7 linked regions of the Homo sapiens genome follow. The protein of the gene in region 1 purifies or fractionates together with the protein of each later gene. This does not show direct contact. Each region holds a gene or a part of one and is shown in the gene's direction. Other genes may lie near its edges.

Evidence for each region.
Region 2: the proteins of TLK2 (region 1) and UCK2 purify together in Homo sapiens (affinity purification with mass spectrometry; one large-scale study listed by BioGRID and IntAct). This does not show direct contact.
Region 3: the proteins of TLK2 (region 1) and KCNB2 purify together in Homo sapiens (affinity purification with mass spectrometry; one large-scale study listed by BioGRID and IntAct). This does not show direct contact.
Region 4: the proteins of TLK2 (region 1) and MTCL3 purify together in Homo sapiens (affinity purification with mass spectrometry; one large-scale study listed by BioGRID and IntAct). This does not show direct contact.
Region 5: the proteins of TLK2 (region 1) and PCCB purify together in Homo sapiens (affinity purification with mass spectrometry; one large-scale study listed by BioGRID and IntAct). This does not show direct contact.
Region 6: the proteins of TLK2 (region 1) and COBLL1 purify together in Homo sapiens (affinity purification with mass spectrometry, with the first as the bait; one large-scale study listed by BioGRID). This does not show direct contact.
Region 7: the proteins of TLK2 (region 1) and CSTA purify together in Homo sapiens (affinity purification with mass spectrometry, with the first as the bait; one large-scale study listed by BioGRID). This does not show direct contact.

Annotation. Positions count from the first base shown.
Region 1 is NC_000017.11:62,572,002-62,576,329, forward strand, and holds part of TLK2 (serine/threonine-protein kinase tousled-like 2), read left to right. Parts: intron 1-1,213; coding exon 1,214-1,366; intron 1,367-2,343; coding exon of another isoform or gene 2,344-2,409; intron 2,410-4,328. UniProt on the Homo sapiens protein: Serine/threonine-protein kinase involved in the process of chromatin assembly and probably also DNA replication, transcription, repair, and chromosome segregation. Phosphorylates the chromatin assembly factors ASF1A and ASF1B.
Region 2 is NC_000001.11:165,886,066-165,890,393, forward strand, and holds part of UCK2 (uridine-cytidine kinase 2), read left to right. Parts: intron 1-4,138; coding exon 4,139-4,298; intron 4,299-4,328. UniProt on the Homo sapiens protein: Phosphorylates uridine and cytidine to uridine monophosphate and cytidine monophosphate. Does not phosphorylate deoxyribonucleosides or purine ribonucleosides. Can use ATP or GTP as a phosphate donor.
Region 3 is NC_000008.11:72,543,246-72,547,573, forward strand, and holds part of KCNB2 (potassium voltage-gated channel subfamily B member 2), read left to right. Parts: intron 1-4,328. UniProt on the Homo sapiens protein: Voltage-gated potassium channel that mediates transmembrane potassium transport in excitable membranes, primarily in the brain and smooth muscle cells.
Region 4 is NC_000006.12:127,481,101-127,485,428, reverse strand, and holds part of MTCL3 (microtubule cross-linking factor 3 precursor), read left to right. Parts: intron 1-2,444; coding exon 2,445-2,516; intron 2,517-4,328.
Region 5 is NC_000003.12:136,256,829-136,261,156, forward strand, and holds part of PCCB (propionyl-CoA carboxylase beta chain, mitochondrial isoform 1 precursor), read left to right. Parts: intron 1-2,347; coding exon of another isoform or gene 2,348-2,407; intron 2,408-3,650; coding exon 3,651-3,707; intron 3,708-4,328. UniProt on the Homo sapiens protein: This is one of the 2 subunits of the biotin-dependent propionyl-CoA carboxylase (PCC), a mitochondrial enzyme involved in the catabolism of odd chain fatty acids, branched-chain amino acids isoleucine, threonine, methionine, and valine and other metabolites.
Region 6 is NC_000002.12:164,679,144-164,682,539, reverse strand, and holds the end of COBLL1 (cordon-bleu protein-like 1), read left to right. Parts: 3' UTR 1-2,352; downstream 2,353-3,396.
Region 7 is NC_000003.12:122,338,213-122,342,540, forward strand, and holds the end of CSTA (cystatin-A), read left to right. Parts: intron 1-3,226; coding exon 3,227-3,355; 3' UTR 3,356-3,757; downstream 3,758-4,328. UniProt on the Homo sapiens protein: This is an intracellular thiol proteinase inhibitor. Has an important role in desmosome-mediated cell-cell adhesion in the lower levels of the epidermis.

The DNA of each region.
Region 1 (4,328 bases):
TACTAAAACAATACAAAAATTAACTGGGCATGGTGGCGCACACCTGTAATCCCAGCTATTAGGGAGGCTGAGGCACGAGAATCACTTGAACTTGGGAGACAGAGCTTGCAGTGAGCTGAGAGCTGAGATCGTGCCACTGCATCCCAGCCTGGGCAACAGAGTGAGGCTCTGTCTCAAAAAAAAAAAAAAAAAAGATTTATTATTCCACAAAAATGAAGGTTGGTTCCACAAAAGAGAATGTGTGGAAAAGCACAGTAGAGGAAGAAGGAGAAGGGAGCTATCATTTGATTGTCAATTATAGTGGGTGACTTAAAGACTAACCTGTTAGATGGTTAATCTCCAATTTTGTATGTTTTTATATACCAAGTCTGTAAACCTTAATATCTGTTAGGTGGTAGGATACATGAGAGAAAGTGTTTTTTTTTTTTACAATGGAGTTTTTATTGGTCCCTAATTTGTAAACTAGTTAATCACAGAAAAATGTGACATCTTATTAGGAAATACTCTAATGGTAATGGTGTTAGATTAACTGCAGTTGTAAAATATGTTTTATACTAATTCATTTTGTATACTATTCCCTAAGGAGTTCTTACTAGTTGGAAGACTTCGTTGTGCTTTCTCCAAATGTATTTTTCTTTTAAAAACTTAATCTAGGTGTCACTGTATCAGTGGGCGGGGTTGACGTGTAGAGTAGTAATGGCTCCCTTAGACTAGAATAAAGGATAGGTCTAAAAAGAAAATCTTGTTTACTTTCTTTAGCATCCTACAAACTTGGTATCTTTTTACGTAAAACTGAGAAGCTTTCATCCAAAGAAAAATAAAATAGAACTTGGAACTTTTTACAACTTTTAAAATACGATTTACTTTTAATGGGTTCAGATCAGAGAATTGTTTCCTTAGCTGTTAAAAAGGAATCAGAAAATTGTTCCTTCTGAGTCAGAAAATAAGGTCACAATAGAAATTTGATATGTTCCTTCCTGTCCACTCTGAAAATAGTAATAACTAGTGTCTTAAAGCACAGACTCATTCCCAGAAAACATCTATCACCAATTATTTGGCCCTTCCAATCTGAAGTTAAAATCAAATCTCTACTTGACTTAAAGGGGCTTATTTTTTCTGAAATTGGATACACAAGTGACAAATTGTGTGTGTTCCATAGCTGTGGTAAAACTTTTGACTTTCTTTCTTTGTACAACGTCTTTTATATCTCTAGGCAACAGGAAAGGATAAATTCACAGAGGGAAGAGATAGAAAGACAACGGAAAATGTTAGCAAAGCGGAAACCTCCTGCCATGGGTCAGGCCCCTCCTGCAACCAATGAGCAGAAACAGCGGAAAAGCAAGACCAATGGAGCTGAAAATGAAACGTATGTTCTTTATTGACGTGAACGCTGAGACACCACACCCTGCCCCCAAATACAAATGTTGATTGTCACCGGCAATAGTTTTAAATTCTTGAGGTCACTCAGGTTTAAACCTTCTTTTCAGTTACATTAATGGATTTGCTCAACTCATATAAATGCCATATAAAATTAATTGATTTTCTTAAACCTGCTCTTTCTTTAGGGCATTTTGAATGAGAGGGAAAAGTAATGTCACTTGACATCATGACTTTTGGCCACTCCTGGTTAACAAATAAGATGTCATTGTACTGAAATGATATTATTGCTTACATGTGGCTGCAGGGTGTGGTACACTAGTATCATCTTATGGGAGTTACCTGGCTGTTATTTCAGACTGAAGAATGCTCTTTACTGGTCAAAAGAGCACTTAGTTAATAGTCACAAACTTAGGATAAGCCCCCCAGAAAGCTGTTATGTTAGAAAAGGACATTGTCCCAATAAGCCACAACTTGATCTCATCAGAATTGTTTCCTGTTCTGGGAATCTAAGGAAAACACCAGTATCTTAAACTGCAGTACAGTCATCTTTTTCTCTGTCACTCAACAATATTTACATAGCTACCATATATAGGAGGAGTAGAAAATTCTAAGCACAAATGCCTGCCTTCTCCATTCTTCTCTTCCTTTCTGTTTAACTGAAAGTAAGTTTCAAGTCCAAAGATAGCTGCAGATAAAAGATATATAACTTATCAACTAATATGTCATTTGCTTTATGTTTTCATATTAGTTCACAAAAACAACACATAATCCACTTCAGGTATAATAATACTTGTATTATATTATTGTTAAAAGTCTGTGGCATCCTAGAAGTGCATCTTCTTTCATTCTAGTGAGAAAGATGGCTTAACACCAATCCTCACCCCATACATATCTGATGTTTTGGGAAGTCTCTTCCTTGATGTTCGTTTAGTAAGTTTATGTTAAATGCTTATTTTATGCTAGGCCCTCTTCTGGGAATACAGAGCTAAAGGATACAGCCCCAGCCTTAGGAGCCCACAGTTTACTTAGGTGAGATGAACAGACGAATAAACTAATAATTACATTAAGTATAGCGATAAAAATGTGCATAATGAACTTGGAAAACATCTTCATTCATATAACTCCAAATTTTGTTGTTGTTGTTTTTTTTTTTTGAGACGAAGTCTCACTCCGTCGCCCAGGCCAGAGTGCAGTGGTGCTATCTCGGCTCACTGAAACCTGTCTTCTGGGTTCAAGCGTTTCTCCTGCCTCAGCCTCCTGAGTAGCTGGGACTACAGGCGTGCACCACCATGCCCAGCTAGTTTTTGTATTTTTAGTAGAGATGGAGTTTCTCCATGTTGGCCAGGCTGGTCTTGAACTCCTGACCTCAAATGATCCACCCTCCTCGGCCTCCCAAAGTGCTGGGATTACAGGTGCGAGCTACTGCACCCAGCCCAAATGTTACAAAACTAGAGTCTTGTTTTCCCTTGATTTTAAAGACTAGTCAAGTGCAATAATGAGAATGAGAAGAGGGGAAGAGTATTGAGTCTTAAATATAAAGTATTTTCCTTTCAGCAAGTCCAAGTAGGGGCTCAAATTTGAAAGATTGTCCAGGCTAATTAATCTGACCAATGTTTTCTTTCATGACTCCTGTGTGTATTTTGTGAAGGGACTTTCCCTCTAGTATTATTTGAAAATTATTTAATGCTAATGCACAAAACCATTGGCTTAGGAGTGATAAAGAAAGCATAGGTTGTTTCTTTGCCACAGAAGAATAATTAGAATGCAATCTAGGCTAGTAATGTGTAAGCAATTGCTATCTGGTGTCCTGTGTAAAATCCAATCTGGAAGACTTTCAGTCCAGTTTTTAATTAGAGTATCTGTGACTTGGCTCTTACTTTGACCAGAAGCCAGAAGTAGGCCTCTGGGGTCTTGGAGTGAGCCATATTATCCTTTCTTGGCCCCGAACCTGTTTCAGACAGAGAATTCTTAGCCATCATTTTTAATTTTTCTGTTTTTCGCTGGTGTGGAATGGAGTAATAGATACAGGTATTTCTGCATCTGTAAAGAGATAGCCCTAGTGGGTGAGTTTCTTCTTCTTTCTATTTTTTCTTGAGTTAGACCTCAAAGGCTCTGTTCTGGTTGATAGGATAGATATTTCCCCTTTCTTCTGCTATTTAGAATATATCTAAACAGTGATATCTAAAAATATTAAATATCTATATGCTTCTAGAATGCGAAGAAGGTAGAGATGGAAGAAAAAATAATTCTCACTTGTTCATCTTTTTTTCTTTTATTTTCTTTCTTTCTGTCTTTCTCTCTCTCTCTCTTTCTTTTCTTTTCTTTTCTTTCTTGAGACAGAGCCTTGCTCTGTTGCTTGGGCTGGAGTGCAGTGACATGATTATAGCTCACTATAGCCTCAACCTTCTGGGCTCAAGCAATCCTTCCATCTCAGCCTCCTGAGTAGCTGGGACTACAGGCATGTGCCACCATGCCCAGCTTCTTTCTTCTTTTTTTCACAGAGACAGAGTGTTGCTTTGTTGCCCAGGCTGGTCTCAAACTCCTGGCTCCAAGTCCTTCCCGCTCAGCTTCCCAGAGTACTGGGATTACAGTGAGCCACCAAGCCTGGCCACTTGTTCATTCTTGAGATGTAAGGATGCTGTTGGAGTAGTTGGAACATGAAACACATGACTACCCATCAAGTCAGCCCTTTGAGAGTTGATTTAAATAGCATTTTCAATATTCTTTATATGTTGTCATTTAATAGTCACTCTTTCTTAGATAGGTATTATCACTTGCTGCATTTCAGGAAACTGAGTTAAAGAGGTTAAATTTGCTTGCGCAAGGTCACATGGCCAGTAGCTTAGTAGTGCTTTGAACCCTAGTCCTCAGACTCCAAATCCTAGACTCTAATTTGCTGCTATATCTTTCTCTTTGTTATTACAGTATCAAGGTTTAAGTATTAACAA
Region 2 (4,328 bases), on another chromosome or scaffold:
AACCACCATTTAACTTTCCGTTTCTATGAATTTGACTTTGCATAGTGCATTTCACTTTGCATAGTGAAATCCTATGGTATTTGTCTTTTTGTGACTATTAATATAATTGTTAAGTCTTAGCCCACTGTAACAGTTGTACCCTTTCCCATTTTAGATTTCTATAGGCTCAGGATTGCCTGCCTTCTCAAACCCTGGTTATTGGTGGATTATTTCTCTTTCTTTTCTTTTTTTCTCTCTTATTTTTTTAGAGATAGAGTCTTGCTCTGTTGCCCAGGCTGGAGTGCAGTGGCATGATCATGGCTCACTGCAGCCTTGATCTCCTGGGCTCAAGCAGTCCTCCTGCCTTAGCCTGCCACACGTAGCTGGGACTACAGGCACAAACACCATGCCTAGATAATTTCTGAATTTGTGTAGAGGTGGGGTCTCACAGTGTTGCCCACCCTGGGCTTGAACTCCTGGGCTCAAGTGATCCTCCTGCCCTAGCTTCTCAAGTCACTGGGATTATAGGTGCACGCCACTGTGCCCAGCTGAATTATTCTTAAGGAACAAGATGACACCTCAGAGCTCCATTTCATCCTTTTGAAGAGAGGGGCAGGATTAGGCAAAAGGAGAACACAGAGATGATAGTGAAAGAGATACAGAGGTGAGTGTTAAGTAAGCGAAAGAGCATTTATTCAGGGCAGAGTAGAGTCTCTTTGTGGGACTCCTCCTTCCCTCCCTGCCTTCTTCCCTACCAGGTAAAAATTCAAACCTACACAACAATAGAGAGGATGATATAACCAAACCCTATGTACATGTCAGCCAGATTCAACAGTTATCCGGATTTTTTAGGGCCCATTTGTAATATGGCCCAGGAGGAAGAAAATGCCTGAACAATCTAGATTAACCTAGAGGCAGGTGTTTCTTTGCTTATTTGTGCAATTTTATTTATCTCCTTCCTGATAAAGGGCTTCTTCTGCCTTGGGACTTCTTACTATCTAAGGTTGAGGTAAAGAGCCAGGACTCTATGAAACCACATTACTTAACTTGGTTTCCTCATCCATGTAGGAGAGCACATGTGGCTTCTAAAGGTGGTCATAATGGAGTGTTTGGCACAGGGACTGCTGCCTAATAAGTAATCATTTACACTGTTAGCAGTGGTAGTGTGTTTGTGGAAGGGAAGGGTCACCAGCCAGGTCCTTGAAAACACAGGACTGAAACATGCAGCGGGGGATCAACACAATTAGTCATACTGTATCATTGATCAAGGGTTGGGATGAGCGCTGATTTTCTAGAATTGCACCTACTGTATGTTCATTATCCCATTTTACTGGCCATTGTACAGGTTCTGTCCTAGATTGTGCTGGGTTAAGGGAAACAGTAGTTTATCTGCAAAATTAGGTAGTGTAACTTTTTAATATGCTTTTTTGATGGTGATGGGATTGCTATTTACATTAAAAACATTTTATGGGTTTTAAATATAAATAAAAATATCACAATTTGAATAACTAGATAATATACATTTGGCTTCGTGAATCACTTTTTTGTTTTTGTTCTTTGGAATTCTAGGAGGAATTCTATCTACTAATAAAGGCTGCAGACTTTATCTTCCTACAACCTTAGGACGTAAGAAACGTCCTAAGATAGATGCCTGGGAGGAAAAGGAAATTGAGGGCCTACAGGTGTTTAAAAACCTATAGTTTATAATTGCTTAGAGCCTTTGATTTCCCCCCCCACCCATCCATCTGTAGCACCCAGAGAGCCTTGGTTTTGTAACATTTTCACTTTTGAATCTAGTTTATCATATGAAAGTTTTACTGTTCTGTGATATTTTGGGGCATGGGAGGATCTGTGGTCCCAAAGTCCAGAGTAGTTTTAAATGTTTTTCTGTGTTAATATGCAAAAGTATCATGAAGGCGAAATAAATTGTTTGCAAATAATTGAGTCAAAATATTATTGTTCCTCCAAAGATCCTTACTTAGTCGTGTGTCACAGCTTGTATAACAGGACGTATTTTGCAGAGCTGTTTAGTTTGCACTGACTTGTGCAACAGGAATGGCCAGTTTTCCTTACGCTCAGGGCAATCAAACACAACTTTATAAGAATTGTAACTTTAAAAGATTTCATATTTTTGTTGTTGTTGTTGTTAAAATCGTTGATGAAATAAATTCAATAGTAAAACTTCTAAGATTTGAGTCATCAAACCTCTAAATATGCTGTTTTTCTGTTCTGTTCTGTTCTGTTCTTTTCTCTTTTTTCTTTTTTTTTGATGCAGTCTCACTCTGTTGCCCAGGTTGGAGTACATGGCACGATCTCAGCTGACTGCAACCTTTGTGTCTTGGGTTCAGGCGATTTTCCTGGCTCAGCCTCCCGAGTAGCTGGGACTACAGGCATGTGCCACCATGCCTGGCTAATTTTTGTATTTTTAGTAGAGGCAGGGTTTCACCATGTTGGCCAGGCTAGTCTCAAACTGACTTCAGGTGATCCACCCACCTTGGCCTCTTAAACTGTGGGATTATAGGTGTGAGCTACCCTGCCTGGCCTAAATATGCTGTTTTTCCTTTCTATTTATTCGGTTGACCAGTTTCTTTCTTCTTCTTTTTTTTTTTTTTTTTTTTTTTTGAGATGGGGTCTCACTGTGTTGCCCAGGCTGGTCTCGAATTCCTGACCTCAAGCAATCCACCCCCTTCAGCCTCCCAAAGTTATGGGATTACAGGCATGGGCCACCGTGCCCGGCAGGTCAATCAGTTTCATTAGAAGACTTGGGTTATGTCTCCTACAGCTTGTGTAATACAGACATTTTTATTTTTACATTAGTCTTTGTATGAAATGAAAAAAGAAATCAGTTATTTGATAAATACAATCCTTCACTATCTCATTCTATTGAATGCACTTGTTTCATAATGTTCCTTTTACGAAGAGTATATTGAAGGGAAAAAGGGGCAGACACATGTATTACTATCTGTTTTTCTTTTTTTTAAATTTTAGGATACATGTATTACTAACAACAACACACAAAGCATGTAGGTTTGAGTTCATTTGGAGTTGGCTTCTCCACTCTTGTTTGGGATACTCCTAAGTTGTTTTAGATGTTGGTGGTGTTTGTGTTCCTTGTCACCCTGTCTGTGGTGACACACGTTTGTGAAAAGGCCACCTGGTTTACTGTAGATGTGAAGTCATGGCTGTGGACTGGAGCAAAAGTAACCAACAGAAGTAGGATTAACGCTGTGAGCATAGCCTTCTTGCTAACTAGCTGAGCTCTCTGGCCATGGTTTTTGGTTCCGTTGATATAAAGAGATGTGCAGGGGCTGAGTGGCATTCCATGGATGTGCAGTCACCTTGTGATTCCAAGGCCCTGTAGCCCCTCAGCACATCATCACCATGCCTTCATTCTACTTTCTGCTGCCTTTTTTGTCTGTCTATACCAGGGCACAAGCAGACAGGATCAGGTAGCCCTACCTTTATCAGTGGCTCTGGGAAAGGCTCTTCTGGAGGAGGAGGTGGTGTGTGCTGCCCTCCTTCCCCCACCATCACTGCAAGTACCTGACAGTAGTAAGCTGTGTTAAGGGAAGGGAGGAAGGAACTTTGGGGATCCTAAGACTTCTCTGTCACAGGCGTGTAAGGCGGACTCTTCTCCGTTAGCCTTTTTTTTTTTTTTTTTTTAATTTAACTTTTAAGTTCAGGGGTTTGTTACATAGGTAAACTTGTGTCACAGAGGTTTGTTATACAGATTATTTCATCACCCAGGTATTAAGCCTAGTACCCATTAGTTATTTTTCCTTATCCTCTGCTTCCTCCCACCCGCCACCTCCAGCAGGCCCCAGTGTGTGTTGTTCCCCTCCCTGTGTCCATGCATTCTCATCATTTAGCTCCCACTTACAAGTGGGAACATGCAGTATTTGGTTTTCTGTTCCTGTGTTAGTTTGCTAAGGATAGTGTCCTCTAGCTCCATCCATGTTCCCACATGAGACGTGATCTTATTCTTTTTATGGCTGCATCCCTTAGCCCTTTAACTCATCATGCACGATAGCTGCCTTTGGATTCTTCCTTCCAGAGCCCCTTCTTGGAAGGTGTGCATCAGCTTGGTTACTCTCGGGACTTCCTCTGTACCACACGTGCCCTTTCTCTTATTCCTGGGTGCTCTCTTCTCTCCTCACAGTCTTCCGTGTGTGCTAAGATCGTGCAGCTCCTGGGGCAGAATGAGGTGGACTATCGCCAGAAGCAGGTGGTCATCCTGAGCCAGGATAGCTTCTACCGTGTCCTTACCTCGGAGCAGAAGGCCAAAGCCCTGAAGGGCCAGTTCAACTTTGACCACCCGGGTGAGTCGGGCATTGAAGGGGGTATGTATC
Region 3 (4,328 bases), on another chromosome or scaffold:
AGCAACTTAAGATAAAATAGTAGGCTTATCAATATGTGCATGCTCAGATATAACTACACTAAAAGATGTACTAAAATAGATGCTTGCTACTTAAAATGCATAAGTTTGGATAAGAAGATAAGTTCAGATAAGATTAGAAGATAAACTTGGATAAGATGATAATATTCAATTGAATATTGGTAACACTTTTATATATTTGGCACTTTGAAATAAGAGCAAAATAAATATATTCATTGAGTGTGACAGCAGCAATTGCAAACAGATGTGGGTGTACTGGATTAATGAATCAATTAACAGGAGCAGCATGATAGCTGGTGACATAACTTCCCAAAATCGTGAGCAAATCTTGGTGATAGCACCTTCTATCATTCCTAGAAAATTCCTGTGTAAAAACATGCTATGAACAATAGGACTAGGGTCTAGTCACAGATAACAGTAAGCAAGTTTTTTATTTACATATATGTCTGGTGAGATGTGTAAAAGTTATGGAGGAAGCAGGATTTCCTGCATTCTTGGGCCTTGCCCTTCAAACACTTGACAACTTTAGGAAACTCACTCAAAAGGATCATATTCCTCTCATTCAGGAGCACTGATTATGGCTATATTCTCCCATTGAAGAAAGCCAATCCAATTCTACTGTGTGGGTGGCTATTTTGAAAAAGCTGAGCACTCTATGTTTTTAGTATGAAGGTAAGTTTAGCGGCTGACTAAATACAAATAAATAGCAACAAAATCAAACTATGTAGTTTGCTAAACATTAGGGACATCCTATTAGTGGGCACAATTTGATGATTTAATTATCACTGTGAAGAGTATCATTTTCTACGTGGGATAGTCAGACAGGACTTCACAGATGAAGTGACATCTAAGTTCATTTTTAAAAGATGAGTAAGCATTCCCCAAGTGGAAAAGGAGGTAGATGGAGAGCATTCTAGGCAGAAGGAACAGCATTTGCAAAGCAATGTCATAAAAAAGGGCTTGGCTGGTGACTGAAGGTCAGCATTGGCAGTTGTGGGGAAGTGATGGGAGACGAGGCTGAAGAAGGTTGAGGATTAGATGTGAAAGGTGTTTATGCCATCCTACATCATTTGGATTTTATCCTGAAAGGCAGGTTGTTGGGGGAGAGAGGGTCAATGGAAAATTTTTAAAAAGTGGTGTAATCCACTTTATTTTTGGCAACAATCTCTGAGCTAATGTGAATAGGATCAACTTTAACAGGAGAAAAGATTGATACTTTGGAGACTAGTTAGGAGTCTTTCAAGGAATACAACTAAGATAATGTCTAAGACTTGCTTTAAACAGGAATGGCGAAGAAGGGGAGGAGGATTTGAATTCCTGACGGCAAACACTTGCAATCTAAGGGTCTCCAAGTCTTCCACCTCCCAATACAGGTCATAATAGTAGGTATTACCCTCCTTTTTTGCTTTTCAATGGTGATTGTATTAGTTGAGGTAACTTTAACTTCTAAACTTCCATATTTCAGTGGTTAATAGAGTGGACATTTAATTTTTGCTTATATGAGAGTCCAATGTATGCATTCAGTGCAGTGATTTGGGGACCCAAATCTTGCTCTTGATACTAGAAACATGAAGCTCTCTGCATCCAGCTGACATTGTGGAAGAGAATGAACATAGAGAAGGCACACCCAAGTAGTGACACACCTGGCTTCCATTCACATTCTGTTGATGAGATAGTCACATTGCTCTGTCAGTATGCAAAGAGGGCTGGAGTATGCAACCTCTGGGTGGGAGGCTACTTTCCAGTCATATTTCTGTATCATGGAAAGGGAAGCATAGATTTTGCTAAACAAAAATTCTACTATATTCTGCTCTCTGGCTACAGATAGGAAAACCTCAACTCCAGAAAACAACCTGAATCTCACCTAGTCACTGTATCCATCTCAAAGTCCAGGTTCTATGGCTGATGCTGAGTGCCCGCCACCATTTAGTCTGGATATGGCCCCTCATTGTCTAGAAACTTTTGTACTAAAAGGCAAGTTATCAGCCTCCAATATACAGGCATACCTCATTTTTATGGTGCTTTGTTTTATTGTGCTTAACAGATGCTGCGATTTTCACAAATTGAAGGTTTGTGGCAACCCTGCATCACGCAAGTCTGTCAGTGCCGTTTTTCCAACAGTGTGCTCACTTCTTGTCTCTGTGTCACATTTTGGTAATTCTCCCAATATTTCAAATGTTATTGTTATATAGGTTATGCTGATCCATGATCAGTGATATTTGGGGCACCACGAGTTGTGCCCATATAAGATGGTAAACTTAATGGATGAATGTTGTGTGGGTCCCAACTTCTCCACTGACTGGCTATTCCCACATCTCTCTCCCTCTGCTTGGGCCTCCCTGTTCCCTGAGACACAACAATATTGAAAATAGGCCAATTAATAACCCTACAATGACCTTTAAGTATCCAAGTGAAAGGAAGAATCACATGTCTGTCACTTTAAATCAAAAGCTAGAAAGGATTAAGCTTAGTGAGGAAGGTATATTGAAAGCCAAGATAGGCTGAGAGTTAGTCCTCTTGTTCCAGTTAGCCAAGTTGTGAATGCAAAGGAAAAGTTATTGAAGGAAATTAAAAATGTTACTCCAATGAATACATGAATGATAATAAAGGAAAAAGAGTCTGATTGCTGATATGGAGAAAGTTTTAGTGGTCTGGATAGATCAAATTAGTCACAACATTCCCTTCAACCAAAGCCTAATCCAGAACAAGACCTTAACTCTCTTCAATTCCATGAAGGCTGAGAGAAGTGAGTTTTTCTGTGAGTTCTTGGATATTGGTAAAGGCCCCCTGTTCTGGCAATAGGGCACATTCCTTCTTTAGACCCTGGTTTGCTATCTTAGAAGAAATTCTTTGTTCTTTGTTCTCTGTTCTTCTGTTTCTTCAAACAGAAGAAAAGTTCAAAGCTAGCAGAGGTTGGTTCACAGGTTTAAAAAAAAATAAGCCATCTCCGTGATACAAAAGTGCAAGGTGGGCCGGGCGCAGTGGCTCACGCCTGTAATCCCAACACTTTGGGAGGCCGAGGCAGGTGGATCACAAGGTCAGGAGTTCAAGACCAGCCCGGCCAACTTGATGAAACCCCGTGTCTACTAAAAAAATACAAAAAAATTAGCCAGGCATGGTGGCAGGTGCCTGTAATCCCAGCTACTTGGGAGGCTGAGGCAGAGAATTGCTTGAACCTGAGAGGTGGAGGTTGCAGTGAGCCGAGATTGCACCACTGCACTCCAGCCTGGGTGGCAGAGCAAGACTCTGTGTCAAAAAAAAAAAAAAAGTGCAAGGTGAAGAAACAAGTGTTAAATATGGAAGCTGCAGCAAGTTACCCACAATATTTAGCTAAGATCATTGATGAAGGTGGCTACAATTAACAATAGATTTTTAAAATTTCTTTAGAGACAGGGTCTCACTCTGTCACCCAGTCTAGAGTGTAGTGGCATGATCACAGCTCACTGCAGCCTTGAACTCCTGGGCTCATGGGATCCTCCCCCTTCAGCCTTCCAAGTACTTGGGACTACAGGCATGCACCACAACACCTGGATAATTTTTTTATTGAAAATTTCTTTAATTAAAAAAAGACATGGTCTCACTGTGTTACCCACAACAGATTTTTAATGGAGATTAAACAGGCTTCTGTTGAAAGGTGACGCCATTTAGGCCTTTCCATAGCTAGAGAGAAGAAGTCAATGCCTGGCTTCAAAGCTTCAAAGGACAGGCTTACTCTCTTGGTAGGGGCTAATCTAGCTGGTGACCTTAAGTTGAATTCATTGCTTACTTTCTATTCTGAGAATCCTAGGGTCCTTAAGAATGATGCTAAATTTACTCTGCCTATGCTTTAGAAATGGAACAATGAAGCCTGAATGAACAATGCATTTGTTTACAGCATGGTTTACTGATATTTTAAGCCCACCATTAGAACCTACTGCTTATGAAAAAATTCTTTTCAAAATATTACTGCTTTTTGACAATGTTTCCCATCACCCAAGAGCTCTGAGGGAGATGTACATGGAGATTAATGTTTTCATGCCTGCTAACACAGTATCCACTCTGCAGCTCATGGATCAAGGAATAATTTTGACTTTCAAGCCTATTATTTCATAAATACCTTTTATAAGGCTATACCTGCCATATATAGTGATTCCTCTGATAGATCTGGACAAAGTTAATTAAAAACCTTCTGGAAAGGATTCACCATTCTAGATGCCATTAAGAACGTTTGTGATTGATGGGAGGAAGTCAAAATATCAACATTAACAGGAATTTGGCAGAAGTTGATTCTAACCTCCATGGATGACTTTGAGGGATTTAAAACTTCATTG
Region 4 (4,328 bases), on another chromosome or scaffold:
CAATCTTTATTCAATGTCCTTCAAGATCTGACTTATGCCACCAGCAAATCTCATGTCACTCCTCTCCTCTCACTCTGTAACACCCATATGGAATTTCTGTCCCAGAAATGGTTTTTCTATGTGGAATGCCTTTTTTTTTCCCTTTTCCTCCTCTTCATCTTCCATTGGCTAACTACTCATGCACCAGATTCTAGATAAGATGCTACTCATTTTGGAAATTATCCCTAGCTCCCCACACCATCTCTAGCCCTAGATTAGATAAAGTCTTTCTCCTTAGTGATCTAATAGCTAACAGTTAGATATGAGAAAGACTTGGGTCAAGGTCTGAAGTTATTGTTACCAACTAGTAACTTTAGACATTTGCAAACTTTAGCTTATTAAATCATAGATCACTGGGCCTCATCCTCAGAGTTTCTGAATCAGTGGTTCTGGGATGAATCTCAAGAATTTGCTTTTCCAACAGCTTTCTGGGTGACACTGATGATGCTGTTCTGAGGAGCACAGAGATAACTGATGCTTTTGATAATTTATTCATCTACTTCTGTTACCCCTGTAAACTTTAGTTTCAGCACCTGCAAAGTGAGGCTAAAAGGAGTGTTTAAAAATTAGCTGAGATAATGTATGTGAAGGGGTTGACATGAATTAGGGCTCAATGACAGTTAATATTGTTCTTGTATTATCATTGCTTTCATAACACTGTGTTGAATTCCAGACTGAACAGATCATGCCAAGTAAGCTGAGAACCCCCAAAAGAGCAAAGATCACATTGGTTTCATTATTATTGTGTCACAGGTATGTTATGAAGTGCATTGGTAGTCACTAAATAAACACATAATTGAGTGAATTCAAATACAAGCATTCAATAAGTATTTAGTGAAACAAATTCAACGCTTCTTGTAGGCAGCCCCTACCTAGAATGTTCCAGGTTTCTTAGTTTAGCTCACTTTATTCTTGGTATTCTTGGGACTGTTTTGTTGATTACTTCCTAAATTACTTTTTGGTTATGGTGAGTCAGTCCCCAAGCTTTCCTTTCTAAGAAGATTATACAAGCAACAGAAAGAACTTCTTCCTGTAAAGAACTAGAAATGAATAACCACGTGGGCTATTCATTTGTCTGTGTAGTTTCAGTTTCATACTGAATGAAAGCAGTTGCACCAAAGTATTCCCCTGCCTTCTGTGCTTGAACGTATGCCTTTACTTAACAGTGGATATGGGTTAGAAATTAACATGTGAAGAATTTAATTTTCATTTCTTTGCGAATTTATGAAGACTCCTGTTTGGAAAAGGCTTCCCTATTTTTACTGTCAGTCTATACCCCTGTCCTTCTCTTTGACCTCAGAACCTCGATTTGGTATTCATATATCATTAGTTCAGCAAGTATTTTTTTCACCACCTGCCATGTGGCAAGCACTATTTTTATGGTGGTGATGCCACACTAAATCAAAACCCCTGCTTCACAGAACCTAAAGCATAGCATTTATCAATTTGCACTGTAATTGTTTGCTTCTCTGTCTCCTCCCCTGCTAAGTTTCAGCTTCCTGATGGTAGATGCAGTATCTAATCAAACTTTGAGTCTCCCCCTCAATGTGTAGTATATGGTAGACAGTCATACATACGGATAATTATTGTTTACATACAGAGACCCTTCTTCTTATATTGGTGTGAGAAATGGAACTGAGCACCAGAGATCATATTACGCTTGTCCTTGAAACAGTTTGGCACTAGCTGTGTATTCTTTGACTTCCAAAGTGTTAGTTTGAATTTTAATTAGGATCAGCCAGTAAAATGTGGGAGATTTTACATAAGAATCCAGATTCCCAGCTTCTCTTGTAAAAGCCCACATTCCTGTATCACACAATGAGCTGAAGCTGTGGCTGGTCCACCTGTTTCTTGAGATGGGGCATGCCTTCTCCATTTCACTACAACCCCTACCATGCCCTATCATTTTGCACGTGTCGAGGAGGAGCAAGGGGGTGATGTGTGGTGAGGGGAGAATGAAGTGCTTCCGATTCTACATAAATTCACTGAAAGTGTGTGTTCATAAGCTTATAGCAACCTAACTCCCAACATTGGAAATAATAACTTACTTTTTTTCCTTCAGTGATGTGGAATGCTAACAAGCATTTGTTTACATTTGAACTATATATCATATTGAGTCAACAATCAATTTTGTCTGTTGTTTTTCTGCATTTTCACAGTAGGTTTCCTGTATTTCTCAAATTAAATAATTGCCAGCTACATTCTACTGTGATGTGTATCCTAGTCCAAAGTAAAAATATATCTAAATCTATCTGGTTTAGGATTTTTTTTCCTCCTTTTATGATTATTGAACTAACTCTTTTTATTTGTCTTGGTTTTGTCGTTTGAGACTAGAATACTTAAAAACATAAAATTGAATTAAAATTATAGTTTATCCAACTAAATATATTCATGCTTTGTTTCAGTTATCCTTAAAAAGAAGAGGAAGCAAAGATTTGCCAAAATCTGAAAAAAAGGCTCAACAGACTCCCACAGAGGTATGTGGAAATAAAATTTCAACTAGTACACCAAGTACCTCTAAGTGTATATAATCACAAACTACATTTATAAATAGATATAATGGCCAGATAAACTTATGCAAAACAAAGTCAAATTTGCATATCAATTATGTAGCTGTAGATACAGGTAGTATAAATCAGAATATTTACTTATAAAGCCAACCATAACATCCCTATTATAATTGCTTTACATTGTAAGCACACAGAAAAATGTCATTCGTATTTTATACGCTGCTATATTTGAGAACTATACTCATGATGCTAATCTTGTCCTTTTATAATTAATAAGGTCAATAGAAAGGCTGTTCCTATAGTGTCAGGAGAAAGTAAAGAAAGGAATGTTGCAGAGGGAAGTCAGAAAGGAGAGAAAGGCTCATTATATCTTTAGAGAGCCCTGGAATGAAGTAATTCTCCATACCAGTGATTGGAGAAGCAAAAGAAAGGAGACAAAAGAATAAAAATGAAAGTTGAAAGATGTACTCAACATGGGTTTGTTAAAAACCTTAGAAGCACAGCCACAGTAAAGACTAGCTTTGCTTTCAAGGTAAAAAGAGGTGCCAATGGTTGTAATGAAGAAGATTTTAAAATGGAAGAGGAAACATTTGGGATAAAAATGACACTATTGTTAAGGAAGGGGATCCCAATCCAGACCCCAAGAGAGGGTTCTCGGATCTCGTGCAAGAAAAAATTCAGGGCGAGCCCATAGAGTAAAGTGAAAGCAAGTTTATTAGGAAAGTAAAGGAATAAAAGAATGGCTACTCCATAAGCAGAGCAGCCCTGAGGGCTGCTGGTTACCCATTTTATGGTTATTTCTTGATATGCTAAACAAGGGGTGGATTATTCATGCCTCCCCTTTTTAGACCATATAGAGTAACTTCCTGATGTTGTCATGGCATTTGTAAACTGTCATGGCACTGGTGGGATTGTAGCAGTGAAGACGACCAGAGGTCATTCCCGGTTTTGGTGAGTTTTAGCTGGCTTTTTTACTGGAATGCGTTTCATCAGCAAGGTCTTTATGACCTGTATCTTGTGCCAACCTCTTATCTCATCCTGTGACTCAGAATCCTTAACCATCTGGGAATGCAGCCCAGTGGGTTTCAGCCTCATTTTACCCAGCTCCTATTCAAGATGTAGTTGTTCTGGGTCACACGCCTCTGACATTATAACTCTCCAAAAGCACTTGGCTAGATATTAACCTTTAAACTATGTCAGTTGGAATCTATGGTACTGTAGTATACTTTTGTGATTACAAGGTTTTTTTCACATTAGATAGATAATTTAACTAAAGTGATTTTAAATATTCAAAATTTGAAAAAGTTGATCTCAGACATTTTTTAAAGCATAACATATTAACTATATATTATTTTCCTTTTTCCTCTCTGTACCTGCTCTGTTCCTGCTCTGTTTTCTCCTGGTACTTGCACCAGAACATGTATGGACCTCAGCATTTTTAGAATCCCAGAGAGTCTCACAGCCAAGACCATGATATCATTTTTTGTACCTTTCTCTCTGTTCCCTTAGTAAGTCCAAATATACTCTGTCACTACAGCTTTTCCACTCTGTCTTTGCTGTCACTTTATCCAACTCACTCTAAATATTTTGTTGTGAATCATTTCACGTGTTGCCATGAATCTTCTTTCCTACCTTGTTTATGGAGTAGACGCTGTATCTACATTTGTCCTATTCTTACACTTCCTGTGTTAAAAGTTTATTTATTCTTTTCAACCATAGTCTCTGATGCAGGAATTCTTAACTGTTTAGTCTTGGCTTTATGGACCTCCACTCACTATG
Region 5 (4,328 bases), on another chromosome or scaffold:
AGGGCACTAGCCTTGTACAAAGGTATCCCAAGAACCAGGAATTTATTCCAAGTGAATGAGATTCCTCTTAGCTGGGTTGGGTGTGTGCCTGTAGGGCATCTGTGTCCTGGGCAGTGTATGTGGACTAGAGAGAGTGCAGTGGGTGCAGCCTCGCAAAGGGGACTTGACTCTCAGAACCAGAGTCCCCCTGAGCTTTGGGCTTTCATGAATATGTTCAGAAAATTTTATCAGGGTGCATCAAGACAGATACAGTTTGTTCACACACATAGCCAAAGCTATCAATATGTTATTTTACACGCAAAAGGGAATGAAGGTTGTTAATCAGCTGGCCTTGCAATAGGGAGAGTAGCCTGATTTATCCAGGTGGGCCCAATATAATCACAGGGTCCTTAAAAGTGGAAGAGGGAGGTAGAAGAGGAGCTTATAAGGATGTGATATGAGAAGGACATGATCTGCAGTACCTGGCTTTGAAGATGGGAGAAGGGGACCATCAGCAAAGGAGTGCCCATGGTCTCTAGGAGCTGGTAAAGGCAAGAAAACACATTTTCCCCTGGAGCCTCCAGAAGGGAGCACAGTCCTGCCAACCTTAATTTTAGCCCAGTCAATCCTGTGTAGCGCTTCTAAATTATAGAACTATAAGATAATACATTTGTGTTGTTTCAAGGCACTGAATTTATATTAATTTGTTATAGCGGTAATAGAAAACTAACACAGAATATGTTGTGTACTATTTTGGATTTGACTTTTTTCTCTCCAGAGGTGGAAATATGTATATAATTTAAAATGCTTAGGTCTTTTTACAGACCTAAAGTTTGATATTAAAATTGGCTAGGCGTGGTGGCTCATGCCTGTAGTCCCAGTACTTTGGGAGGCTGAGATGGGTGGATCACCTGAGGTCAGGAGTTTGAGACCAGCTGGCCAACATGGCGAAACTCCATCTCTACTAAAAACACAAAAATTAGCTGGGTGTTGTGGGTGCCTGTAATCCCAGCTACTTGGGAGGCTGAGGCAGGAGAATCGCTTGAACCTGGGAGGCGGAGGTTGCAGTGAGCCGAGTTTGCGCCACTGCACTCGAGCCTGGGTGGCAGAGTGAGACTCCATCTCAAACAAAAAAATAATAAAATAGTTATACTTGGTTAATTTAAAATCTGTCGTAGTTAGTATGCATTTACCAATTAAATTACCTTTGAAATGTTTTAAAACTGTTATAAATTGGTCTACCAAATGCCGAAATAGAAGGAATCACATTTGTTTTGTGCAATTTATGAGAGCTGAGAAAAACTTGTACAGAAGGAACCATTGAAAAGAGAGATAGAACAAAGATGTTTTCTGGACATGATGTTCACTCACCACTATTAAGCAGATGGAAGAATTCACTGAATTGATACTTTTGACCACCTCTTATGCTCATGTGGTAGGGTGGGAGTGAGGAGAAGGTGGAGATGACTGAGACAAGAGTTCCCACCCTGAAGAAGCGAATCATTTTATAGGCAGAATGGCACAGAACGGATGTAACTACAGAGCACATGGAGTGAGAGGTTCCAGGCAAATGCTGTAGACCCAAGACAAGGGAAAATCACATCCAGGGTTGAGGAAAGCTTTAGGAACAATGGGGCAATTGAGACAGGCCCTGAAGGATACTGAGGGTAGGGAGTGATGAGCTAGTGTTTTTTAATAGTGATCTCCAAGATGTTAATATCTTAGGTGCTTTTTCTGGGGAGCTTCTGTTCTTCTGGGGAGCCTCCTCAGTCCCTTGCCTGATAATTGGCTGTTGGTGTATTCTGAGGGGGAGAGAAAAAAAGGGGCCAGCACTCATTCAGTGTATAGGCTCCTAATCTTGCATGTTTTCAGCCTCACCTTTTCCTCTTTTAGGCTAGCGATTGTGAGTTTAGAACCCTTCTGGTTAATTTCCTTTAGAGAACAAACATTCTCTGTCCTCTCAAGGTGAAGGAGAGGCCCTGTGGGGTCTGACTGCTTCTAACAGAGACTTCTGTTAGTCTCTGTTTTCAGCCTCCTTCTCACCTCCACTTTCCATGGTTCCTGGGTTGTCTTCTCCTTGATTACCCCCACTGCAGGTGTGTAAGCTTCCATTCTCTCCCTCTAAATCAGGTATTTTCTTGTGCTTTCAGTTCCCCCCAAATTTGTTTAATCCTTCCTATGCTATTGTCTCCTTGTTCTTATTCTCACAGCTGATTCTGTTCTTAATTCCTAACTGTCTTTTTGAGGGGGTTTTAGGAGAGGTTATGCCCACAATAAGCCCTTTACATCTGAACATAATGAAGATCCATAAGCAGAAGAAGCAGTGAGAGCTCTGATTCTTGTTTTTTAACCTTTCTTTTTAAAACAGCAAATAATAGGCTGGGCACAGTGGCTCCCGCTTGTCATCTCAGCACTTTGGGAGGCCGAGGTGGGTAGATCACTTGAGGCCAGGAGTTTGAAACTGGCCTAGCCAACATGGCAAAACTGTCTCTAATAAAAATACAAAAATTAGCTGGGCCTGGTGGCACGTGCCTGTAATCCCAGCTACTCGGGAGGCTGAGGCAGGAGAATCACTTGAACCTGGGAGGCGGAGGATACAGTGAGCCAAGATTACGCCACTGCACTCCAGCCTGGGTGACAGAGCAAGACTTGGTCTCAAAATGATAAGTAAAATAAAACAGTAAATATTTCTTAAAAACAGAAGTGCTTGACTGTTTGATATCCATAGAATCTGATATTAGAGTTAATTCTGTGTGATAGGTTTTCCTTCAGAACTGCAAATCATTTCTTTTTTTTCCTTTCAAATCATTTTTGTAGAGCAAAGACTAGCTCTTTTGCTCTTGACAATTCATGAACTTCCTTTAAGATATTTTATTCTATGGAATAATCTATAAATCAGACTTCTTTTCTAATTTTTTAAACTTCTGAAAATGCTTTAAAAACTATATGTATGTATTTTTTTAAATACAGAGTCTCGCTCTGTCGCCCAGGCTGGAGTGCACTGGAGCAATCTCTGCCCACTGCAGCCTCCGCCTCTTGGATTCAAGTGATTCTCCTGCCTCAGCCTCCCGAGTAGCTGGGATTACAGGCACACACCACCACGCCCAGCTAATTTTTATATTTTAGTAGAGATGGGGTTTCACCATGTTGGCCAGGGTGGTCTGGAACTCTTGACCTCAAGTGATCCTCCTGCCTTGGCCTCTCAAAGTCTTGGGATTACAGGTGCGAGCCACCATGCCCGGGCAACTTTTTTTGTTTTGTTTTGTTTTGTTTTGTTTTGTTTTGAGACAGGGTCTTGCTCTGTTGCATAGGCTGGAATACAGTGGTGCTGTCTCAACTCACTGAAGCCTCTGTCTCCAGGGCTCAAGCAATCCTCCTGCCTCAGCCTCCCGAGTAGCTGGGATTCCAGGCATGTGCCACCATGCGCAGCTAACTTTTTTCTATATTTTTTGCAGATACGGGCTTCTGCCATGTCGCCCAGGCTGGTCTCAGACTCCTGGACTCAAGCCATCCACCTGCCTTGGCCTCCCAAAGTGTTGGGATTACAGGCATGAGCCACCACGCCTGGCCTAAAAACTTTTATCTGTGAATTTTCTATTTCTTCCTCCCACTGGGTTTTCATCTCTAGCCAGTCACTATATTTGACTTGCTGATTTGTATTTTCTTTTTAGGATTTTACAGTTTTTGGAGGCAGTCTGTCAGGAGCACATGCCCAAAAGATCTGCAAAGTAAGTGTTTAATACTCAAATTCAATCCATTGCTTTCCTCAGTTACATAGTGCTTATTGAGTATCTTTGGGGTACAAGACACTGAGCTAGGTACTTGGGGTAGGGCAGAGGTATGCAAGATGTGCTACCAACCCGAAGGGGTGCATAACAATTTTCGTACCATGGATCTCTTCCATGGGCTGGCAAAGCCTGAACCCTCCTGTTTTTACATGCCTAAAATAAAATTTGTAGGATTTTAAAGGATTAAAAATGTTTTTAAAAACCACATTTAGAATATACGTGCTCCCTTGTTAATGCATTTAATAACAAGATTTAGCAGTAGATCTAGTAACTACCGTAATTTCAAAGTAGTCAAAGGTGAAATATTTCAGGGTATCTGCAACAACTTTAATAGGACGTAAAAATATCTGTGGCTTCTAATAATGGCAAATCACAGATATTTCTAATACTGAGGCTCATTGCCTATATCAATAATGAAGAGAAATGTTAACGATCAGCTAGCGTTAGTAAAGATAAAGATGTAAATTTTTTCCTGTTCAAGTTCATGGACTCCCGTTCACAGATCTCTTGGGGTTCTGAGGATTTCAAGTGAAGAACCTCTTGTCTAGGTGGAAGGGCCAG
Region 6 (3,396 bases), on another chromosome or scaffold:
CATACACACTCTGTCATCTTATCCAAGTCCTTGAAATGAGACCAATCTTTGTCCTGAGACTTAGTTACTTATAGGTGCTTAAAACCCAAAGCGTCCCAATTGATACAATTATGTATGTGTCTAATTCCAGTTTACTTTGTACCCACTACCAGTAGAGAAAATAAGTATCAAAGAACTAAGAATCAAACTCATCATTTTTAAAATCTACTGATTTTGATAACTGACTTGAAAGAAAAGAACTTGCAATTAGAGGTCATAGTGAAGATTTCCAGGGTCAAAGTGATTTCTGAGGTTTTAGATGTAAAAATATCTCCTATTTATTTGCTATTTCAGAGTTGACAACAAGATTTTTATTTGATCCACATATTTAAAAGGTGTGCAAAGATTGCTACTTTACAAAGGTCACAGAAGCAGAGGAGTCTCAGAGTCCCACATCCAATTACTAATTTGTTCTTCCCCATGACTAAATGTAGCAAATGATGAAGAAACTGGTGCTAGATTTCAAGGGATACCAGAATAGGAAGTTATTTGTTCTGAATCTTCAGTTGGTTTTCCTTTTCTCTTAAATGTTACCACTTTCCTGCAAATTTCCATCCTTAATATGTTAGACTGTTCATATAGATACATTGTGTTTACAACAAGGAAAAAATGCCACCATGTGCTCAGAACTTTTTTGACAGGTATTTTGAGAAGAGTTGTGGAACATTCTGGTAATTTGTAGAGATCTGTTGGCATCTCTGCTTCACAAACTGGAAAAAATCATTTGTAAGTCTTGCTAATTACTTTTCTTGGAGAAGAAAAAAAATGCTACAGTTGCAAACAAATGTATAGTTTTCAAAAAGAAGCAACTTTTTTGCTCCCCAGTTTATTCTTAGTTTCCAGCCCACGCCTTGCGATAGCGATAGGCATAGTGATGGCCTCAATTCTTTCTCTCTTGCATCCATACCTTTTGCTGTGATAGCAGTGATGGCCTCAGTTCTTTCCCTCTCTTGCATCCGTACCTTTTGCTGTGTGACTTTGCAGCTCCTCTCATTAAAGAGGCAGAGCCCCCTCTCCCACCCATAGGAGCAGGTTTTGAGAGTAACAGAATGAAGTGAAAATGACACTGTGCCAGTTCTAAGACCAGCCCTCAAAGGTTCATGTGTTTCTGCTTGCTTTCACTGTATTTGAAATGTTGCTGTGAGAAAGACATCTCTGAAACAGCTGAATGGTCCTAAGAAAAGGATGAGAGATGCAGGGAGCAGAGCTCCCAACTGAGGCCAGCCTAGATCACCTAAGAGCCAGGCCCCCAGTTTACTCTGATGTGTAAGCAATAAATGCTTACCCCAGCAATACCACCAAGGTTTGTGGTTGGTTTATATACAGCATTAATGTGGCAATAGGTGCAATACACCCTGTTAAACAAACCATACACATATGACTCTAACCCTAATCATAAATTGATTCAGTCTGTTCAGTTCCACAACGCTGTTTCCTCCAGAATCTCACAGATGACTTACTAAATCCAACACAAATACACCTCAGACTTTCTGTCTAGCTCCCAACCAGTTAAAAGCAATTCTAAATATTTTTTTTCTTAGTCGTAGTGCAAAAGTATATTCTCTCCCTTTCTCTATAGTTTTCTCTCATTTTGTCTTCAGACCTAGAAGCATGAGAGCCCAGCTGTCAAAGTCATCTAGACCCCCTTCAGAAGGTCATTAAATTTGTCTATTTCACAGGATTGCAAGATAAAATACAGAATGCCCAGTTAAATTTGAACTTCGGATAAACAACAAATTTTTTTTTAGTATAAGCATATCCCATACAATATTTGGGATATACTTATATTTTTATATTGTTTATCTGACGTTCAAGCTAACTAGGCATCCTGTATTTTTCTTAGCTAAATCTGGCAACTGTGCTATTTCATTGAAAACCTGAAAGTGTACAAAGAAGGAAGAAGCAGAATCTGCCATATGAGTAATAGAAGTGAGCAGGCCCAGGACTCCCTAAGTCAAGAAACCAAGAGGCGTCATTACGGAAAAGAGTAACTCACCCTGTGTGCTCCTTGGTAGTTCTCCCTCAGCGATGCCCCCATGTTATGAATGGGGAAAAGTTCACTGAAGGGTTCATAGTGAAGAAACTTTTTGGATGATTTCTGTTGGTGGGTTTTGGATACCTTCAAGGGATCAGAAAATAATATACTTAGGAAATTTTGGTAATGTCATCATTACTCTCTACATTATTATTATGACGGTTACAATTGTTAAATCTAGGTGGTGGGTATGTGGGTTATATTGTACATGATTTTTAACTTGTCTGCATGTTTGAAATTATAATAAAGTCAATAAATAAATTATTGAGACACTCCTGTTACAGTGACCGATTGCACTCTATTCATATGGATAAAGACATTTAATTTGTGGCCATTTGTTCTCCTTCCACCCATTAAGAATGTTAGTCAAGTCAGGATAGATGATTGGAGGCAAGTAGGAATTTGGCAAAAGCATCTCACTATTAGCAAAGTTAATTAAGGGTGTTATGGTTCAGTTTTAACTAAAAAACACCATACACTGCAAGATCTGATGGAGCACAGTATTATTATTATTATTATTATTATTTATATTTATATTTTAAGTTCTGGGATACATGTGCAGAACATGCAGGTTTGTTACATCAGTATACATGTGCCATGGTAGTTTGCTGCACCCATCAACCCATCGTCTACATTAGATATTTCTCTTAATGATATCCCTCCTCTAGCCCCCGCCCCCACCCCCCGAGAGGCCCAGTGTATGATGTTCCCTTCCCTGTGTCCATGTGTTCTCATTGTTCAGCTCCCATTTATGCGGTGTTTGGTTTTCTGTTCTTGGAACACGGCATTATTTTTAAGAGGGACGAGAGAAATAGGGAAAATGAAATTTAAATACCAGTTCTCTACCATTTACTCTGCTACATGTCCCTTGAGGTAGATTTTTATCACATTTTACTCATGAAGTTCAGAGCACCCTAGGGTGGTGCTGGGGTTGAAGACATATTTGATACCATGGCCCCATTTTTTTCTGCTATACTCTGCTGCCTTATTCCAATTGTAACTGTGTACTTGAACAATCTTCAAAAAGTTTTTTTTTCCTTTGCAATGAGTACCTCATAAATTACGTTTCTAATCTTTGTAACCTTATCTCAGTTGCCTAAACCGGAGAAAAATCATAATGAAAGTGACCAGTATTTCTCCAAGACCACTTATTCTGCCATTTTGAAACCTGATGGATGGCTGGTAATTTGTACGAGGTGTTGCACCACATCCCCTATAAATATGGGACACCTCCTAGAATTTTACTAGGCAGGGTGCTTTAGAGAAGTATGGCCTTCTTGAGAAGTCTAGAATCAAAGTCAGAGGAGACAGACATAGAAATG
Region 7 (4,328 bases), on another chromosome or scaffold:
AAAAGTTAATTTTATAGCTCTGTCAAAAAATTACACAATGCATTGATCGAGTTCTAATTGAAGTTATCAAGAGGAAACCAGTTGAACAAGTCAACCATGAATATTTGAGAGCCATGTTTGTCCTTATATATTAAGAAGATGATAATGCTGATTTTAAAAATAAAAACAAATATTCAAGTATATTTACTTAATCTTTACTTCACTATTTGACCAGGGCACAGTGTGGCTTATTTCTCTTTAACAAATATTTCTATTAAAATATAAACATTTTAAAAGATTTTTTCAGCAAAAAAAAAAAAAAAAGTAAGTGAAGTAAGTGGAGCTAGTCAGCTCAGCATAAGAAAGTTTCAGTACAGAGCTATGTACACAGATCAGCCCTGTTCTGCCAAATGTGAGCTCCTAGTAACGACCAGGTCCCGGGGAGACACATGTGAAAGAGGACCCTGCTGTATCCTCAGAAAACAATGGCACCATTTCCTCCATTCTCAATCTGCTTTCTTCATGGCTGGAAAAGAAAGTTTTCCAGTTAAAAATGATTATGTGCAAAGATAGGAAACATTCCATCAACATTAACATATTTAATAATTTATGATTAATTCAAATGCATAAATTTCACATATTACCAGCTCACATGTTTCTTCAACAGTTCATCAGATAACTATCTTGAAAATTTCTGCTTGAAAATTTGTTCCCTTGACCACCCTTTTGCCCTCTCTTAATCAGTCTCCTCTCTCTCTCTCATCTTTTCTTCCTTCTGCTATCAAACTTTTCCTACTGGATCTCAGCCACCGATCCCAGTTCCCTTTTACTTCCTGGTAGTCTGGCTGTTGATCCCTTTGCTCTGAGGCACTCTAGATTTAAGGTCTTGCCAGTGATGTGACCTTCTCTATGTATTTCAAGTACCTATCAAGAGGTAGGTGGTAGAATGGAAGGACCACAAGCTTAGGTGTCAGAGTGTCCTGGGTTTGAACCCTTGTTCAATTTGTTCTATGGGAAGCTCCTCCTCCTCTCTGAGCCTTCATTCCCTTATCTGCACAATGAGGGTAATAATCTACTTCGCAGCGTGTTGTGAGGAATAAATAAGCTGGAAATTTATTGAGCACTTATAATTCACTATGCACTATTCTAAGAACAGGGCTTATCTCATTTAATCCTCACAACAAATCTATGAGATAAGTACAATCACTTCTCTTGGGTTACCAACGAAAAAACTGAGTTCCAGGGTGGTGAAGAAACTAAAAAGATCACACAACTACAAGAGCAGAGTCAGGATTTGAACCCAGATAGACTGAGCTTAACTACTGGCTGTGCTGCCTCTAATATAAAGCACAAAATAAGAGCTTTTACAAGGTTACACTGGCCTGGTGTGGTGGCTTATACCTGTAATCCGAACACTTTGGGAGGCCAAGGTGGGAGGATAGCTTGAAGCCAGGAGTTTGAGATCATTCTGGGCAACATAGCAAGACCCTGCCTCTACAAAGAAAATGTTTTAATTACCTAGGCATGGTGATGCACACCAGTAGTCCTAGCTACTTGGGAAGCTGAGGTAGGAGGATCACTTGAGCCGAGGAGTTTGAGGTTGCAGTGAGCTGCGATCGCACCACTGCACTGTGAGCCAGGCCTCATTCCCCGATCAGTACCCCCCAAAAATGTTACATTGTAGAGTGAAAAGAATGTAGATGCTAGAGGCTAACAGATCTGGGTTTGAATATTGGCTGTGCCACTGACTAGCTGAGAGATTTATGGAAAATCACTTAATCTCTCCTACTCTGCTTCCACGTCTGTAAAAATTTCATTGCTCCACTTTTCTTCAGGCCTATAATATAGGTTAATATAATCATTTATATAAAATGTTCATCATAGTGTCTGGCTCACAGTAAACATTTGATATATGGCATTTGTTAAAATTAGGATAGGAAGTGACATCAGAAGCACAATAAATATTTGTATAAGACAAAGCATTTATTGTCTCCAGCAAGAACCAAAGTAAAAATTCTTACCATAATTTTCCAGGTCTCAGATTCATGTCCAAACTACTGCTTCTGCTTCAACCTTCCTACCAATGACTTCCTAGTAAAACCCCTTAGCTTTTTTTTTTCTTTTCTTTTTTGAGACGGAGTTTCACTCTGTCACTCAGGCTGGAGTGCAGTGGCACAATCTCGGCTCTCTGCGACCTCCACCTCCCGGATTCAAGCGATTCTCCTGCTTCAGCCTCCCAAGTAGCTGGGATTACAGATGTGCACCACCACACCCAGCTAATTTTGTATTTTTAGTAGAGACCAGATTTCACCATGTTGGCCAGGTTTGTCTCAAACTCCTGACCTCAGGTGATCCACCCACCTTGGCCTCCCAAAGTGCTGGGATTATAGGCGTGAGCCACAGTGCCCGGCTGGCCCCTTCACTTTAGAAGGGAGGGTGTCCGCCCCCTGGGCTCTGCTCAATCCTACCAGTGGGTGTTTATAAAGTAGGTTCTGATATAGGTATGGGAACCCTGCATCCCAAATTTTCTAGGGCAATTCTGATTTTCTTCTCCCTTATCAGACTGTATGGCAAACAAAGTGTCCCAAGTTGAGAGTCAGAAAACAGTATCACCAAAAATATAGGCTATCACTTGTTTTCTTGCTCCATGCATCTTTGAAAATAAAATGCTGTCCTTTGTGCCCAGATTATACTAAAAAAAATAACAAAATAAACCTAGGACCTATGCCTCTTGCCATGCCATTAGTCTACAATTTTTTTTTTTTTTTAAGACAAACTCTTGCTCTATCACCCAGGCTGGAGTACAGTGGCATGATCTCGGCTCACTGCAACCTTCTCCTCCTGGGTTCAAGTGATTCTCCTGCCTCAGCCTCTAGAGTAGCTGGGATTACAGGCATGCACCACCATGCCCGGCTAATTTTTTGTATTTTTAGTAGAGACGGGATTTCACCATGCTGGCCAGGCTTGTCTTGAACTCCTGACCTCGTGATCCCCCTGCCTCAGCCTCCCAAAGTGCTAGGATTACAGGTGGGAGCCACGGCACCCAGCCTAGTCTGCTCTTTTTCTCCTAAAATAAGGTGGTGGATTTATGAATACAAAGAGTCTAAGAATGGTGGACTAGGTCTAGCAATGCTGTTCCTCAGCAGCTTTTTGGACAGAAGTCTTTGTAGACCTGTGGCTCTCTCACTTGATGTAGACCCATTTGAATGAATCTCCTTTTGCTTTCTCTTTCTTTAATATTTTTCAGGTACGAGCAGGTGATAATAAATATATGCACTTGAAAGTATTCAAAAGTCTTCCCGGACAAAATGAGGACTTGGTACTTACTGGATACCAGGTTGACAAAAACAAGGATGACGAGCTGACGGGCTTTTAGCAGCATGTACCCAAAGTGTTCTGATTCCTTCAACTGGCTACTGAGTCATGATCCTTGCTGATAAATATAACCATCAATAAAGAAGCATTCTTTTCCAAAGAAATTATTTCTTCAATTATTTCTCATTTATTGTATTAAGCAGAAATTACCTTTTCTTTCTCAAAATCAGTGTTATTGCTTTAGAGTATAAACTCCATATAAATTGATGGCAATTGGAAATCTTATAAAAACTAGTCAAGCCTAATGCAACTGGCTAAAGGATAGTACCACCCTCACCCCCACCATAGGCAGGCTGGATCGTGGACTATCAATTCACCAGCCTCCTTGTTCCCTGTGGCTGCTGATAACCCAACATTCCATCTCTACCCTCATACTTCAAAATTAAATCAAGTATTTTACAAAGTGTGTGTGTGTGTGTGTGTGTGTATATATATACTTTTTTTTTTTTTTTTTTTTTGAGACAGAGTCTCGTTCTGTCACCCAGGCTAGAGTGCAATGGTGTGATCTCGGCTCACTGCAACCTCCACCTCCCAGGTTTAAGCGATTCTCCCATCTCAGCCTCCCAAGTAGCTGGGATTACAGGCACCTACCACTGCGCCTAGCTAATTTTTGTATTTTTAGTAGAGACAGGGTTTTGCCATGTTGGCCAGGCTGGTTTCGAACTCCTGACCCTAGGTGATCTGCTCGCCTTGGCTTCCCAAAGTGCTGGGATTACAGGTGTGAGCCACCTTGCCCAGTCTATATTTTTATTCTGAAACAAACTTAAACATAGAGAAAAGTTGCAAAAAAAAAAAACCCACTTTTTTTCCTGGACATTTGAGACTAAGTTACTTACCATGATGCCCCATCATCAACAAATACTTCAGTGTGCATTTCCTACAAACAAGGATATTCTCCTGCAAAACTGAAATACAACCATCAAAATCAGGAAATTGCCAGGTCGCAGTGGCTCACGCCTGTAATCCCAGCACTT